Regions from separate parts of the Homo sapiens genome. Here region 1 is linked to region 2. The links come from fine-mapping of genetic effects on gene expression. Tissue or cell type: whole blood. Region 2 holds a variant in brackets; the other region holds the start of a gene. All regions are shown on one strand. Distances are between the middles of the regions.

Region 1 (8,143 bases), 61 kb after region 2:
AGATAAATAAGGCTTGGGAGAAACGATTCCCAAAGTGCGTGTTTGGACAACTCTAATCTAAGAGAGTTCCCTCAGGGCAACTGGACCCTTCTAAGTAAAGCACAAGACACAATGCTGGGTAACTTTTGACTGGAAAAGTATATATCCAACAATAATTACATGTATTTTTTTAAAGAACAAAAGCAAAAATACAAAGAATTTAAAATTAAATACAGCAGTGGTTATTCACCTAAGCCAGAGCTCCCCAGGACCGTTTCTGGGGGATGCTTAGCAGAAGCAGATGTGATCTCTAGGCTAGTAAGCCTGAGAAACGCTAAAATTGAAAAATGAAATAGCTCATTTGGATGAGCAGAGCTAGGCGATTGGAGGGCGAAACAATCTGATGGTGAAAATGCCATTGATGAAAAATTTGTACTGGTATCACTTAAAAGCTTGCCTCACATTCACCTCCCAGCAATTTTAGCAAAGATTTAGTGTTCAAGAAGTTTGCATTTAGATACTCAGTCGCTGTGCACCCACAATAGCCCTTTGGCTTCAGAATCTAGGTGGCCACCCGGACCAGTGATGACTGGGTGGATTTTGTTTCTGATTCCTTTCAAAGTAATACTTTGAAAAACTTTTGTCTATGAGCCTTATCTAAGATAGCTAAAATGTCAGTCTCCACAGAGGCAAAGTAAGTGGCACTGAGAAGTAAAAAAATCCAGCCAATCCCCCTGCCCCCTATTTGTGGAAATGGGGCACAGCCCCCATCTTGCATATATTTTTTCAGACATGTTTTTACTTCGGGAGAATATTCCCCTACAGAGTAAGTATCTTTAAAAAATGAAAATGGTGGATGTAACAGTCATCCTATGACCAGCCAGAGCTTTGCTGCTTTTTCACTATCGGGCCTACCTCTGCAATCATTGTTATGTTTCTGTGCTGGTATGGGTGTGCCCAGAAATCAGAAGAGGGATGAGTTGGATTGCAACAGATGGAGAAAATGCCCACTGCTGCTTTATAACATATTGAAAGCAAATGAAGAATCCCAGCCATGGGTTTCCATCTCCTGTTTTGAGAACAAGAAGACAGTCCGAGATGTAATAATAGTAATAGTAAATACAATGTTTACTTATTGGCTGTCTACTATGTATTGGACACATTACATTACTTCTCATTGTCACATCTCTGCAAAGAAGGTATTACAAGTCTTTCTTTAGAGGTGAGAAAACTGAGGCCCAGAGAGGTTAAGTAACTTGCCTAAGGTTGCACAGCTAGGAAGCGGCAGCACTGGGACACCACCTGAAATTAGCCTGGCTCTTTCTACCACGTCCAGCCACCTTCCTAAAAGCAGAGCCACTCACAAGCCTGGAAGCTTTGCATTCCCCAAGGCTGCATGTCAGAGCTCCATCTCCTCACTGATAAAAGACAAACACCACACTGACCGCTGGGTGCATTCTTGGCTACTGCAGAGTAGGGAGTTAGAGGCACTGAGGGCTCTGCAGGCACAAGTGTGCCCATGCCACTAGGCACGCCATCTTAGGATCTTCTGGCCTCAAGCCCTGGTGACTGTCTTGGTAGATTCTCTCTCAGGGAGGCCTCCTCATGTGGACAGACCAGGTCATCATTTGCTTTGATCCTAATAATCTGGGCATTTCCAAAGAAATGCAAATGCAACAGCTTAGTAAAAAGTAGACATTTTAAAAGGGATGTATGCAATGGGTCACTTAACTGAGCAAGAAAAGAGAGAAGACCTGACTGAAATTCTATGTGCGGCCTTTCCTCCGGGGAGACTGTGGAGGTGTCCCCTCAGGCAGCAAAAGCACCATCGCAGCCCTCGGTGTCAAGGCCTCTCTGAGTCGCGCTTTGCCTTACCGTACCTCGTTTCTGGGCTAGGATATTTTGAAACACTTTTGTCTATTAGCTTTATCTAAAATAGCTAAAATATCAGTCTCCATAGAGGCAAAGTAAGTGGCACTGAGAAGCAAAAAATCCAGCCAATGTGCAGTTTTCTCCTCCTGCCCCCTATTTGTGGAAATGAGGCACGGCCCCCATCTTGTCTGCTGGGTGGGGTTCTGTTTACCACGCTTGGCAGCCACCGCCACCCAACAATCTTTCATTTTTCTTTCTAACTTCACTTTGCCCCTACCTTGGTCTCTCCAAGCCGAACACAAATGGACCAGTGAGGAAACTGCAGGTAAAGACCCTGAAAGGTTATATGAGCTCCCTGGTGTGGTGTCTCAAGCCTGAAGCTCAGAGGCTGGAGCTATTGCCCCTGGCTGTCTCCCCTGAAGTCACTAAATTCCAGCGTTCTGGGTCCCCTTGTCCCCAGCACACAAGGATGGGCTGCTCTGAGCAAGCTCAGGCACCCTCACTCTGCCACACTGTGTGTGTGACTTAGACCCCACAAGGCTTTTCTGAGAAAACAGCTGTGACCTGACAGAAACCCCTGCAGCTGCACGGGCCTCAGAATCCCCCGAGGCGCTGGCCCGGGCTGTGCCTGGCTCCCTGGTGGGAGCAGAAGTGCCCATGGCCTCTCCTGCCCTCCCAACAGGGCCCCTAAACAAATTCCCACACCCAGGTGAGTTACCAGGAGCGATCAGGTGGGCCGAGGACATTTGCTTGCTTCACCTTCCCTGTTTCTTTAGATTGAAATTCAGCCTGCCCCACTTCTCAGGAAGATGCCACGAGGCTGATCCCCCTGAGCAGTTTGTCCTGTCCTCTTTTCACTGGTTTTCTTCCTCATTACCTGGGCTAGAAAACATGGTGGAAGCTAAAGGCTTGCAGCAAAGCTGGGCTCCCACGATCGGGAATGAGGTGAGGAGCAAGCACTCTTGTTGGCTGGGCGCTGCTCGTGGTGGTGACTTAACCAGGCACATCGTCTCATCTGCCCCGTGTTCTGTCAATGCCGGGCCCTCTGGCTGGGCTAGATGGCCGCCTAAGGGGCAGGCTGGGGTGAGTCACGGAGCCTGGGATGGTGCGTCACCCGGCAGTCCCAGGCGTGGGTGTGGGGACAGCCATGACAAGGCTGAGCCTAGACACGGACGCTTGGCCATGAGGTGGCGAAGGCGCTGTGGAGGCTGCCACCCGGTGCTTCCTGCCTGTGCCCCTCTCCTCCTTGGTTACCCCACTTACTCCCGGGCCCATTGGAGTGTTTCAGGCCATGACCTTGACTGACCAACAAAATCTTCTTTGTTGGCAAAGGAAGAAAGAAAGGGGCTGAGTGACGGAGCCAGCCAGAGGGTGAAAGAAGCTGAAGGGACTAGAACGTCGCAGCACGAAACATGGCCTGGCTGACATTTTCCGATCCTGTCCAGCTTCTGTGAAACACTCCCTCTCCGTTTCTCTACCCTGGGCCTGCCTCGGTTGCTCTCTTGCTTCCTTCTTCCTTCCTCTCTTATCACTCGAAAAATCTGTACCTGGAGGAGCTGTGTATTCTAGCAGCTGGCTCTGAACTGATGCCCAACTCGGCTGTGACGGAGCAGATGCCAGCACCGGGCCGGACCCCTCACTGCTCACTTGCCCATTGATTTGAGGAGGGCAGGATTTGAAGGAGACCCCAGCCCCTCACCACCCTCCACTACCCACACCCACTCCCCTACACATACACAAAGAGTTTCTAGAAGTTCCCTGCCGTCGACACGTCGGCCCTACCTGTAATCGGCAACTGTGCCTGCAGGATGGCCGCGGTGAAAAGCGCCTTCCACTTCATCTTGTCCTTTCCCTCAGAAAGAGGCTGGGAGGCAGAGGCTGAGGCAGCGGTGGCCGGGACGGTTAGGAGAAAAGGAGTCTCTGCTGGTTTTATTCTGCAGCTACCTCCCCAGGAAGTGGAGGACTGTGGGGCCTTTGAGAAAGCACCTGCCGACAGGGCCAAGAAATTCGCACTCCCCCTTTCGGTTCACAGGCAGGAAGCCCTGGAGGTTTGAGGGTTTGGGGTGTGTGTATGTATCTGTCTGTCTGAATTTTGCTTTTTCTCTCATTTGACCATTGTTTTAATGCTCCTTTTTTTAAAAAAAATAATTCTTATCTAATTCCTATCTTGATTGGTAAAGTCCATCTCTAGGCAAATACAAGTTCTCGATGGATGTAAGAACATTTGCTGTTTTCCTAGACTGTCAAATATTTTATGGTGGCTGGCAAAATGACAGAACCCTGGATTAGAGTCCAGGACAAATGTAGAGACAGATTCCTTGGGCTTTAGTGACATCTCTGCCTACCACCTACTTGCTGTGTGGCGTTGAGTCAGTCACTCAACATCTCTAGACTTCAGCTTCCTTATCTATAAAGCAAAGAGCTGGAGTAGATCTGAGGTTGCAGATCTGAACTTGGCCTGAATTTGGATCATTGTGTGAAATACTGTAGCTCACATAGTATTTTAAACACTTGTGTTAGTTGTCAACATTTAAACACCAGAGTAATTTACAATAATAAAACATTAAAACCTAGACATAAACTTCGTCTAAAAATTGTAATATATCTATATGAAACAAACTTTAAAACATTGCTGAAGAACGCCGAAAGGACTTGGGTAAATGGAAAGGCATACCCTTCTTTGATAGGAAGCTCTCTTTTAAGGAGACCACCATTCTCTCTTAATTAATCAATCTATTTCATTGAAAATACCAACAAAAAGTTTTAGAACAAGTTAAGCTGATTCCAAAATTGATATGAAAAAAATTAATGTACAAGAATAGCCAATAATCCAAAGTCACAGCAATCCAACATAAAATTGATAAATTGGACTTCATCACAATTAAAAGTTTTTGTGCATCAAAGGACACTATGAAGAAAGTGAGTCCTGCAAATCACCGCATACCTCTAAGTGATGGAAACAGCATTCCCATCATCAGACTTGGTACCTACTCAGAGCCTAAATTGACCCCTAAGGGGGCCGATGACTTACTCAAGGCCACACAGCAAGTAGGTGGTAGGTAGAGATGTCACTACAGCCCAAGTAGTCTGTCTCTACATTTAGTCTGAGTCTTCATCAGTGAAGGTTGTCATTGGTCTGGGGTGCTGACACACTGATGAAGCCTACATATACCAAAATGAAGACACAGCTGGGGAGGCCATCAGGGGGAAAATAGCAGAAGGAAAGGTGCAGAGGAAGGATATCTTCTACTGTGGAAAACTGTGGGCTACAAATCACAACCCAGAGCTGGTCTGCCCGAGCCTAGAGAGGATGCTCAAGGTCCTCCAGCTAGATTGTGTGGATCTTTACATCACTGAAATACCCATGGCCGCTAAGCCAGAAGACAAAATCTACCCTATAGGTGAGAATGGCAAATGGTTATATCACAAGTCAAATCTGTGTGCCACTTGGGAGACTTCGGAAGCTTGTAAAGATGCTGGCTTGGTGAAATCCCTCGGAGTATCCAGTTTTAACAGCAGGCCAGCTGGAGCTCATCCAGAACAACCCAGGACTCAAACCCAAGCCAGTCAGCAACGAGGTTGAGTGCCACCCATATTACACCCAACCAAAACTTTTGAAATTTCGCCAACAACATGACATTGTCATGATTGCATATAGCCCTTTGGGGACCACTAGGAATCCAACCTGGACAAATATGTCTTCTCTGCCTTCGTTAAAGGATGCACTTCTAAAAAGGTGCAATAAGATCACAGCTCAAGTTATTTTGCGTTTCAACATCCAGCAAGGGGTGGTTGTCATTCCTAAAAGCTTTAATCCTGAAAAGATCAAGGAAAACCTTCAGGCCTTTGACTTTTCTCTCACTGAATCAAGGACATTGAAGCCTGGAGTGAAAATGTCCGCTTCATAGAAATGCTCATGTGGTGTGATCATCCCAAATACCCATTTCTTGATGAATACTGACTTCAGAGAGTTCCTGAACAGATTCTCCCCTCCCACGTGTGGAGGACCTTAGGGTGCATAGTTCCCCATGGACACGGAAATGAAAGAGGTTTTATTATCTGAAAAGTGGTGATGGAAACATGCTTAACTTTTGTATAGTGTAAGTGATTTTAACTCACCCATGTTAAAGACAAAATGTTTAAATCTGTTGAAATTCTTAGGAAATTATCACCTAATATTTTATTAGATAAATGTCTTCTGGGTTCCAGACCAAAAACAAAACAAAACAAACAAACAAACAAAAAACAATTAGATTCCAGAAAAGACTTGAAAGGCAACAGATGACAACCAGCAACAAGTAACTCATGAATGTGGGTAGTAACATTGTTAGCCTGAGTTCTTTAGCAGTCAACAGGACAACAAAGACAGCAGAGGGCCCCCATGTGCCAGGGTGCTGGCAGTGGCCTTGAGGACTTGAACCATTGACTGCAATACAGACACAGCCAAGATAAGATCCAGACATGCATTATTAACAAAAAAGTGATTTGCTGCACCTTGAGTAGGGAGAGAGGGCTAAGTGTAGAAAAGTCTTAAAATAGAGTCAATTAAACACCACAGTGATCAACAAAGCCATAAGGATTTTATTGTTGTTTGTTTCTATCCGATGTATGTTTGTTTAGCTTTTACTCAGCTTGAAGGATGCATACTTGCTGGTTCTCTTTTGCATCCTCAGAGGGTCTGAGTTTCAACATAACTAGTGGTCCATACTTACATTGTCTTATATTCACTCTTGCCACATTGATCATCGAATCACCATTACGTGAAGTGGCTTGAAACAACCAACATACATAAATAAAACTCTGCATCATAAAGTATTCCAAAGACGGCTATTTTAAAACAAGACATTTTATAAGGGGACTTTAGGAGACATATTGAAAGAAGAGGCTTTATAAAAGTACTATGCTTAAGTCTTTAAGAGTGTTATTGGGATAGCTATGTGAATTTTGAGAAAATAGCACGTTCAAAAGAACACTGGTAATTGTACTCTATGTAAATTTTTAAAGAGAATAAAATTATTAGAATTCAACAACAGAGATGTACCTATTTTCAGTTCAACTACAGAAATATATTTTATTCATTCATATTAGATCACTCTCACAGGGCAAGAGAGTTCTTCAAAAATTATGCTTTTCCAAGACCAATTGCTTATAGATAATCTTCAATGACCTGTACACATACATTTCTGAGAAAGTATCACTTAAAAACTTGATCTATACTGATTGTTTTCACTGATTCCGATGTTAATACTTACAATGCTTGTCCTCTAGACAATACTTTGTTCACAAGAAATCATGAAATATGATGACAAAGAAAGACAAAAGAAAGAACGAAGAAAGTGAAAAGACAACCCAACCCACAGAATGAAAGAAAACATTTGTAAATATACTGATAAGGGTCTAGGATTCAGAATATATAAATAACCCCTATGACTCAACAATAAAAAACATAACCCAATTAAAAATTGGCCAAAGATGTAAATAGACATTTCTCCAAAGAAGACATACAAATGGCCAATTAGCACATGAAAAGATGTACAACATCATTAGTCATTAGGGAAATACAAATCAAAACGACAGTGAGATACCACTTCTCACCCACTAGGATAGCTAAAATAAGAAAACAGACAATACAAGTGTTGATAAGGATGTGGAGAAACTGGAATTCTCATACATTTTTGTGGGTTATATAAATGGTGAAGCCCTTGTGAAAAATAATTTGGCAGTTCCTCAAAAAGTTAAACATAGTATCATGTGACCCAGCAATTCTATTCCTAGATATATACCCAAGAGAATCGGAAACCTAGGCTCACACAAAAACTTGTAAAGGAATGTTCATAGCAGCATTATTCACAGTGGCCCTAAACTGGAAACAATTCGAATGGCCACAACTAGGAATGGATAAGCAAATGCGCCGTATCCAAACAATGAAATATGACTCAGCCATCAAAAAGAATGAAGCACTGTTACATGCTGCAACTGGGATGACCCTTGAAAACATTATGCTAAGCGGAAGAAGCCAGGCACAAAAGGTTACATAGTGTATGATTCCATTTATATAAAATGTCCAGAATAAACAAATTCATAGAGATAGAAAGCAGGTTAGTAGTTGCCAGGGGATGGGGAGAGTGGGGAATTGGGACTGTCAATAGCTATGAGGGTTCCTTTGAGATGATGAACATGTTCTAGAATTGGACAGTGGTGATGGTGTGCAACAGAGTGAATATACTAAAAACCATTGAAGTATGCACTTTAAAATGACACATTTTATGTTATATGAATTATATCTCAATAC
Region 2 (8,000 bases):
GGATGGTGAAAATGTTCTGGAAATGGATAGTGCTGATGATTGTACAATAATGTAAATGTACTTACTTCATGTCACTGAATTACACTTAAAAATGAAAATAGTAATGTTATATTATTTTACAAGAAAAAACACGTTAAAAATATATGTATATCTGGAGGGCCGCACACACAAAAATGTCATCCACGGTTACTTCTGCAGAGGAGCCACGGGAGGGGGAGGCTGGGTGAATTTCACTTATTTTCCACCTTACACCTTTTTGTGGTGTTTGGAACTCTAACTATGATAGTATATAATATTTATAATACTAAACAACCAAAACAAAAACAAATAACATGAACCCTTACATCAAAGAAGGTGTGTGCGGCAAGATTCTGGCAGGGCAGAAAGTGGAGGAACAGGGGCTGGCCCATTTAGCGAAGCGCTTTGCGCCCAGCCCTGGCTCAGTACATTTCTGGTGATGACTTGCCGGGGTTTGGAAGGACCTCAGCTATACAGAACTTTCACGATAATGGTATTTGGTGAATATGGTTACATTTATATATGAACACAGAAAACCAACTACTGCTGGTAAATAGCATGATCACTATTGTTATTATCCAGTGCTGTAAGGACGAGATGCTTTCACCAGCAGCCGAGTGAGATGAAAGCGCTTTTCCGATCCACCGAATCAGTCCCACTGCAACTGTAAGCTGGAGACCCTCTGGGCCTTGGGAGCTCAGGCTGCCTGGGCAACGCAAGGGAGGACAGGGGCGGAGGGGGAGCCAGGAGGGCCGCACCTGCCTCGCTCGCTGGTCGCCCTCGCTCTGGGATCCGTCCTGCCGGTCCCAGGCTGTTGAGGGCGCCTCCTCAGAGTCCCTGTGGCCCCCGCAGCTTCCCCGGAAGAAACCCGTGCATCCATCGGCTAGCCCAAGCCCAAGCTCCTCCCGGAGCTCCCCGAGCCGGGGCCAGGCCTCCGCCCCTCGGTGCCCGCGCCTGGGCTCCTCCCGCTGCGGGCCGCCCGCCCGGACGCAAGGCACAGGGGGACGCCCCGCCGAGCCGCTGCCCACTGCACCGAGTTTTTCGGAGGCTGGGAGAGGAAATGCCACTTGGATTTTAAAACCGTCACCGATACGCTATAGGTGAATATTTCGCTGGGATTTTAAAGAGACGAGCTTCAGCCTGCTAAGCCGCGCTCACGCCGCCTCTCCGCCCTGGCCTCCCCGCGTCCGGCTTGGGGCCGGGTCCCTCCCGGGTCAAAGCTACGCCGGGTGCACTGCGGGCTGGGCAGCTCTCCCACTACGCCCAAAGCCCAGGCGGCCGGGACCGCCGTCCCAAAGTCACAAACCACACCCGTGAAGGACGCCCTCCGCAAGACAGAGAGGAGGCTGGGCCTGGGAAGGAACCTCCGGCCCTTCCTCACCATGCAGCCAAGGTGGGCTCCCAGCCCCGTGTTGCCGCCAGCCGCGGCTCCCGTGCGGTTACGGGAGCAGCAGCCCCGCCCCGCCGGCCCCCAGCTGGCTCCTCGCTCGAGGTTTCCTGTCGAGCGCTGCCATCCAGGGCCCGGGTTATCGCGCGTGATCTCCCATCTGAGCTGCTCACACGCTGCCGCCCGCCCCCACTTGCGGTCCCTTGTCCCCGAACCGCACCCGCCCCCAGGCCCCCGCGCTGAGAGACCAGGGCGTGGATCTGCGCCGGGCTCCGGCGCTGGGGGCCGAGGGTCTGGTTTTTAGATATCAAAGGAGCCCGACACCAGGGTCCCCCAGACAGGCAAGGAGAGGGACCCGGCCTGGGGCCTGCCTTCGGTGGTGGGCACAGTGGCCAGGATCGGGCCTGGCTCCGGCTGGCCCGGCACACGAGCACGGCGACAGTGGCAAGACTGGGAGGGCCGGCGCTGCCTCCTTGGGAAGCCCCGGAGAGACGCAACCCTGAGAGGCTGGGCCTTCCCACCCCCCGCCCCCTCCCCCTTCCTCAGATAGCAGGGAGGAAGCGCCAGGGGTCTCTCCGTTCTCACATAGGGGGACTCCAAATGTCGTCAAACCTGCCACTCTCGGAATCAACAGCTGCTTTCATTTTGAGCCCTGTGAGCAAAAGTTTCAGGGCTTTCCTGGCACACATACCCAGTGCATGGAGAGCGCTAAATTTTATCTTCCCTTCTAGAGTGGGACATTCCTGTGTGGAGCTCCGAGAATACATGCCGGCACTGCCTGTGCCTGGGGCTGTGCTGGCTCCCACCCAGCTGCAGGAATGAGGGACCACGGTACGGAGGGAAGTGGCTGAGTTGACAGCCACTGATAGAGCTTTTTCCTGATTGTCTCTGGCTTGAGCTAACCAGGTGGCATGACAAAGTACTTAACAAAAACTACAGATGCAGAGAATTTTGGAAATTTTTAAAAGACAGGAAAAAAGGTGGTTGAGGCAGAAAAAGGTAGTTCTAGAGTGAGAGGGGTTTCTTTCCTCCTCTTGGCTCACAGCAGAGGCCAAGTCCTTAGCAGTGTTTCCAGAGCAGGTGAATGAGACTCTCTGAAGGCCGGCCCAGGGGTCTGCCTTGTAACACGTTCCCCCAGCTTCTCATGTACACCACCACTCTTCGGGGACCACCACCTTCTGGGTTGGATGGGTCTGGAAGATTCTACGAATATATCCAGCCCTACCTGAGCATTTGCAGAAAGCCTGCTCTGTGAGGGAGGGCAGCCCCAAAGCTCTCTGTTGTAGACACAGAACCCAACAGGGACTACTGGTGCCACACTCTATCTCTTCTGTCAGAGAAGCACCCAAGTGAGCCATGACTTTGACATTGCATGGCCATCTTATGTTCATTCCTCAAACTTTGTCATGTTAATGTGTACTCTCTCGGGGACATCATACCTAACACGGCTGCCTGAAGATCTGCTTCGTTTAGAATATGCTAGTGAGGACAGTCCTGGAATTTCTTTGTCTCTTTCCAGCCCTGCTTTCTCTACCTCCAGTCGTTTTCTGAGGACCGGCTTGGTGGGTGCTGATGCCTGCCTGGAAGACCTCACACCCACAGTGTCTTAGAAGATTCTGAAAGCAGTGTGAGGTACCAGCCTGCTTTAGCGCTAGGAGCTGGCATGGTGGGGGTCTCAGGCTGCATCCGCACATTCTCAGCGGTGCTTTTGCTCCTGGAATGGAGCCACAAGCTGCTCTGGGCCATTTAGAGACTCTAAGTGGTTTGCTCAGGGCTATATGGAAGTGGGAGGTGGGGGACCTGGGCGCTCTGTAGCATGCTTAGTCCCCCTGGCAGGGTTAGAGGTTAGTTGACCAGAGACAACGAGTCCAATTCCCAAACAGACCAGAATGACCAGCAAAGGAGAAAAGAACAAGGACACATTGCAGCCAAAATGGAGCTAGAATCTTGCCTCTGTCCATCCTTCACTGGAGTTATCCTGGATGGAGAAGGAACCATATCACCTGCAAAGCCTGGAAGGGGAGCCCTGCTGTGAGGTGAGCCAGTAAGTCTGTGAGTTCAGGAGGGAGCACACGCTTGTCTGTCCATCTGTTCATGAGCAGGCGCTCTTGAGTCTTCCTAAATATTGCCCAGAGCTCTCCATCCAGATACTGTCCTTTCCCTTCCTCTCCATTGATGGTCTCCAAGCCTTTCTTAGCTTTCATCTTCCCCTAAGGATTCCTTCTCCCAAAGCTCCAGCCCATTCCAATGTCAACTGCATTCGTTGTTTTTGTTACTCTCATTGTGTCAAATGGGTTCTTTCCTATGCAACTAGATTGTAGGTTGCTCCAAGGTAAACACCGTGATTTCTAGTTCCTTTGTTTCTACCACTGCAGGACTGTAGGAAGCCCAGTTGTAGGCATCACTAGGACTCAGTAATTACATAATTGCTCAGATAATTGAGAGAATGATTGATTGATTAGTGGTCATTAATGCCATAAAATGAAGGAATTTCGCCCCTCACATTTTCAAGAACCTATGAGTTCGAAGAGACCTGAAAGAACATTTTTATGGGAGCCTACACCAGTGCTATCACCTAAAGTGCGTGACCTTAGGGAAGTTGCTTCACCCCTTGTTTCTGTGCCTCCAAAATACTGGTGTTAATACAGTAATTTCTGATTCCTTCCACCTGTGCCCTGCTCAGCGATCCAGTGTTCAAGCTGGTCATCAGGAGAAAGCTACTTATGATTTCCTAACAAGCCACCACAGAACATCACATTCCCAAACATGCTCTTCACCGTCCCTGCTGTCCCCACGTGCCTAGCCCTGGTGTGGGCAGGAATGAGTGGGATTGG[G/A]ATGTTTTCTCACAGGTCTTTCTCAGGTGAGGCCCCAGGCTGTGACCAGGCCCCTGCCCTGCATGTGACTCAGGCCTAGCCCCTGCTGGGGCAGGAATGCCACCCAGCACAGCATCCTACTGGTGCCTGAATAAAGAATGGACTGGAGGTTCACCTGAAAGGGGCTGCCAGGTTTCTGCGGGGGCCAGCCAACGGCTCACAATGACCCTGTGTTCGACTCATCTTACGATGAAATTTTTCAGCTTGACGAACTTTTACTCATCTTTCAAGGCTCGGCTCAAATGTTATTTCCCTGGGAAAACTGCGCTACTTTCAGCAAAATGCATTTCCTTTTGATGGGCATCTGTTTTTTTCTTTCTTTCTTTCTTTCTTTTTTTTTTTTTTTTTTTTTTTTTTGAGACAGGGTCTTGCTCTCTTGTCCAGGCTGGAGTGCAGTGGTGCAATCTTGGCTCACTGAACCTTCACAATGGGCATCTGTTTCTGTTCTATGGAGTGACCTAAAAGTCAAGAATCATGGAGAAATTGGGAGCAATGGCTCACGCCTGTAAATCCCAGCACTTTGGGAGGCTGAGGCAGGCGGATCACTTGAGGCCAGGAGTTCGAGACCAGCCTGGCCAACATGGTGAAACCCCGTCTCTACTAAAAATACAAAAAAAAAAAAATCTGTTAGCTGAGCACTGTGGCGTGCGCCTGTTATCCCAGCTACTCGGGAGGTTGAGGCACAAGAATTGCTTGAAGCTGGGAGGGGGAGGTTGCGGTGAGCCGAGATCAAGCCACTGCACTCCAGCCTTGGTGACAGAGTGAAACTGTGTCTCAAAAATTTTAAAAAAAAAAAAATCATGGGGAGAATTTATTGTTAAACAGAATATTAGTTACATTTTCAAATAATACAGTCAATATGTTTTTCTGTAACCTTTAGATATGTTTTCAGGTGAAGTACCTCTAAATGTAAAGAAATGGGTCCAATTGTTAATTTTTTTTAAAGGTTCAAGAAATACACTACTTTCTCTGGCTTTTTCCTTACAACTCTTTTTTTTTTTTTTTTTTTTTTGAGATGAAGTCTTGCTCTGTCACCCAGGCTGGAGTGCAGTGGCATGATCTCAGCCCACTGCAACCTCCACCTCCCGGGTTCAAGCGATTTTCCTGCCTCAGCCTCCTGAGTAGCTGGGATTACAGGCACACGTCACCACACCCGGCTAATTTTTGTATTTTTAGTAGAGACAGGATTTTGCCATGTTGGCCAGGCTTGTCTCAAACTCCTGACTTCAGGTCATCCGCCTGCCTTAGCCTCTCAAAGTGCTGGGATTATAGGCTTGAGCCACTGTGCCCTGGCCTCTTGTACCTTTTTTACATTAACAACTGGACTCGCTTTAAATGTAGAGATACTTCCTGAAATGGTGTGTGAAGGTTGAAGAAAAACATGAGCATATTATTTGAAAATGTGGCTAAAGTTCTGTTTTAAAGTAAGTTTATGGTAATATTTCTAACTTTTCAGATGCTCTGTAGTTCTTGGCACATTTTTCACTAATATTTGGTGACAGGTCTGTCCCCGTTAAAAATTGAGAATTCCACAAAGCCTGGGATATGTTTTATTCTTCTTTGACTCTTCACTCCCCAGCTAACCACCATGCAGTGGGCAATCATAAGGGTTTAATGAATGAATAAATGATCAAGTCAGGTAGGTTTTCCCCGAATTCTTGTCTTTGGGGCTGAACCCAGGGTAGGTTTCCTGGCATCATTCCTGTGTTTTCTACTCTCCCTCCCTAATCCTCTGAAAGTTTGAACAAAAATAAGATTATGGGCCAGGTGTGGTGGCTCACGCCTGTAATCCCAGCACTTTGGGAGGCTGAGGTGGGAGGATGGCTTGAGCCCAGGGGTTTGAGACTAGCCTGGGCAACATGGCGAAATCCCGTCTCTACAAAAAATAGAAAAATTATCTGGGTGTGGTGGTGCGCACCTGTAGTCCCAGCTACTCGGGAAGCTGAGGTGGGAGGATCACCTGAGCCCGAGGAGGTCCAGGCTGCAGTGAACCAAGATCACATCACTACACTCCAGCCTGAGTGACAGAGTGAGACCCTGTCTCAAAAAATAAAAATAAAAATAAAGAAATAAGATTATGACCAAGAGCCGTATGTCTCAGATGTTGAAGGGCAATATACCTGTGCTTCAGAAAAATCTGCCCTGTGTGCCAAAATGTGCAGAAAGGAGAGCCAGCTTCTCAGCTGGCCCCATGCCCCACTACTAACTACTCCCACGGCCTCGGCGAGTTATTTCTTCTTTTTTTAAAAATTATACTTTAAGTTCTAGATGTGAACAACGTGCAGGTTTGTTACATAGGTATACATGTGCCATGTTGGTTTGCTGCACCTATCAAGTCGTCATTTACATTAGATATTCTCCTAATGCTATCCCTCCTCCAGCCCCCTGACCCCCCGACAGGCCCTGGTGTGTGATGTTCCCCGCCCTGTGTCCATGTGTTCTCATTGTTCAACTCTCGGGGAGTTATCTCTGAGTTACTCCTGAGTCTGGGCTGGGAGACACCAGGGGGACAGGGCACACACATTTGCAAGTTTCCTATTCAGGCCATGCTGTCCAGGCAGCCAGAATGAAGCCCAGCCAGAGCCAAAAGGCTTTCCTGGAGGTGTGTTTGTCAGTTTGGCAACCCTTGGTGTGCCCAGCCCACGCGCTGTGAGCATTCGCCTATGACGTACTTTGCGTGGATCAAAGGCCCCACAAAGCCTGCCGTGCCTGCAGCTGCCACGCTGGGGACATGCTGGGGACGTGGGCGATCGTGGGCTGAGAGGCAGACTGCTGGGCTGCCGCCTCCCATGGCAGCTTTCTCCCATGGGAGGGAGTTCACCTTGCGGCTTCCAAACTCAGCCGGGCCGCCCCTAGGCATGTCACCTCTTCTCTTTTTCTCTCTGTTGTCCCATGATTTGGGTCCTCAGGACCTCTCACCTGGACCCAGGGATAAATGAGATCCACTATCAGAGCCAATGGCAGCATCGGCAGCACTCTAGAGCTATTTCTACTTGATTCTAAACCTAGATTTATACTATGTGTAGCCAGCTAGAAATACAGATCTCACTGTAGAAAAGAGACTGGAAGAAATTACAGCAACTGTTAGCAGTGGTTTCATCTCTGGTTTGTGAAATTATGGGTGATTTAAATTTTCTTTATGCTTTCCCTTATTTTCCAAGTTCCATAGTGTATAAGAATATGTAATTTTGAAATAAGAGAAAATAGTCGGCCGGGCGTGGTGGCTCACGCCTGTAATCCCAGCACTTTAGGAGGCCCAGGCGGGCGGATCACAAGATCAGGAGTTCGAGACCACCCTGGCCAATATGGTGAAACCCCATCTTTACCAGAAATACAAAAATTAGCCGGCTGTGGTGGTGGGCGCCTGTAGTCCCAGCTACTCAGGAGGCTGAGGCAGGAGAATCGCTTGAACCTGGGAGGCAGAGGTTGCAGTGAGCCGAGATCACGCCACTGCACTCCAGCCTGGGCGACAGGCTCAAAAAAAAAAGGAGAAAATAGTCAAAGTACATTTTTGATGCCTTGTATTAACCTCCCTTTTGTGTCCCCCACCCTCAAACCTTAGTTGCACTTTAGGTCAATGAATATCTAAATCACTCTGCATTCTTCAGGCACACAGCAGCAGGAGGGAGGTGTGCCTGATAGGATGCTGGATTAAAGATTGGTTCTGACCAATTCACAGAGTATAGGATGCCCACAGGAGGAAAGCTGAATATTTAGCATGG

What was found. PIP is the estimated chance that this variant, and not a neighbour inherited with it, causes the effect.
Region 1: it holds the start of CD247, and the variant in region 2 is fine-mapped to the expression of CD247 in whole blood (INTERVAL, PIP 0.91).

What each region holds. Positions count from the first base shown.
Region 1 is chr1:167,514,775-167,522,917 of GRCh38, forward strand. CD247 (CD247 molecule) reads right to left here and starts at 3,755. Exons shown (of 8, transcript NM_198053.3): 1 at 3,634-3,755. The coding sequence starts at 3,691. It also overlaps the pseudogene AKR1D1P1. RefSeq lists enhancers at 2,152-3,115, 2,387-3,586.
Region 2 is chr1:167,454,081-167,462,080 of GRCh38, forward strand. The region is part of intron 1 of CD247 (CD247 molecule); the gene reads right to left. LOC101928512 (a long non-coding RNA gene) reads left to right here and starts at 986. Exons shown (of 4, transcript XR_007066724.1): 1 at 986-1,118; 2 at 2,925-3,037; 3 at 3,289-3,441. RefSeq lists silencers at 840-949, 970-1,059, 1,150-1,239, 1,580-1,809. The variant G/A (reference allele first, on the strand shown) is at 4,240.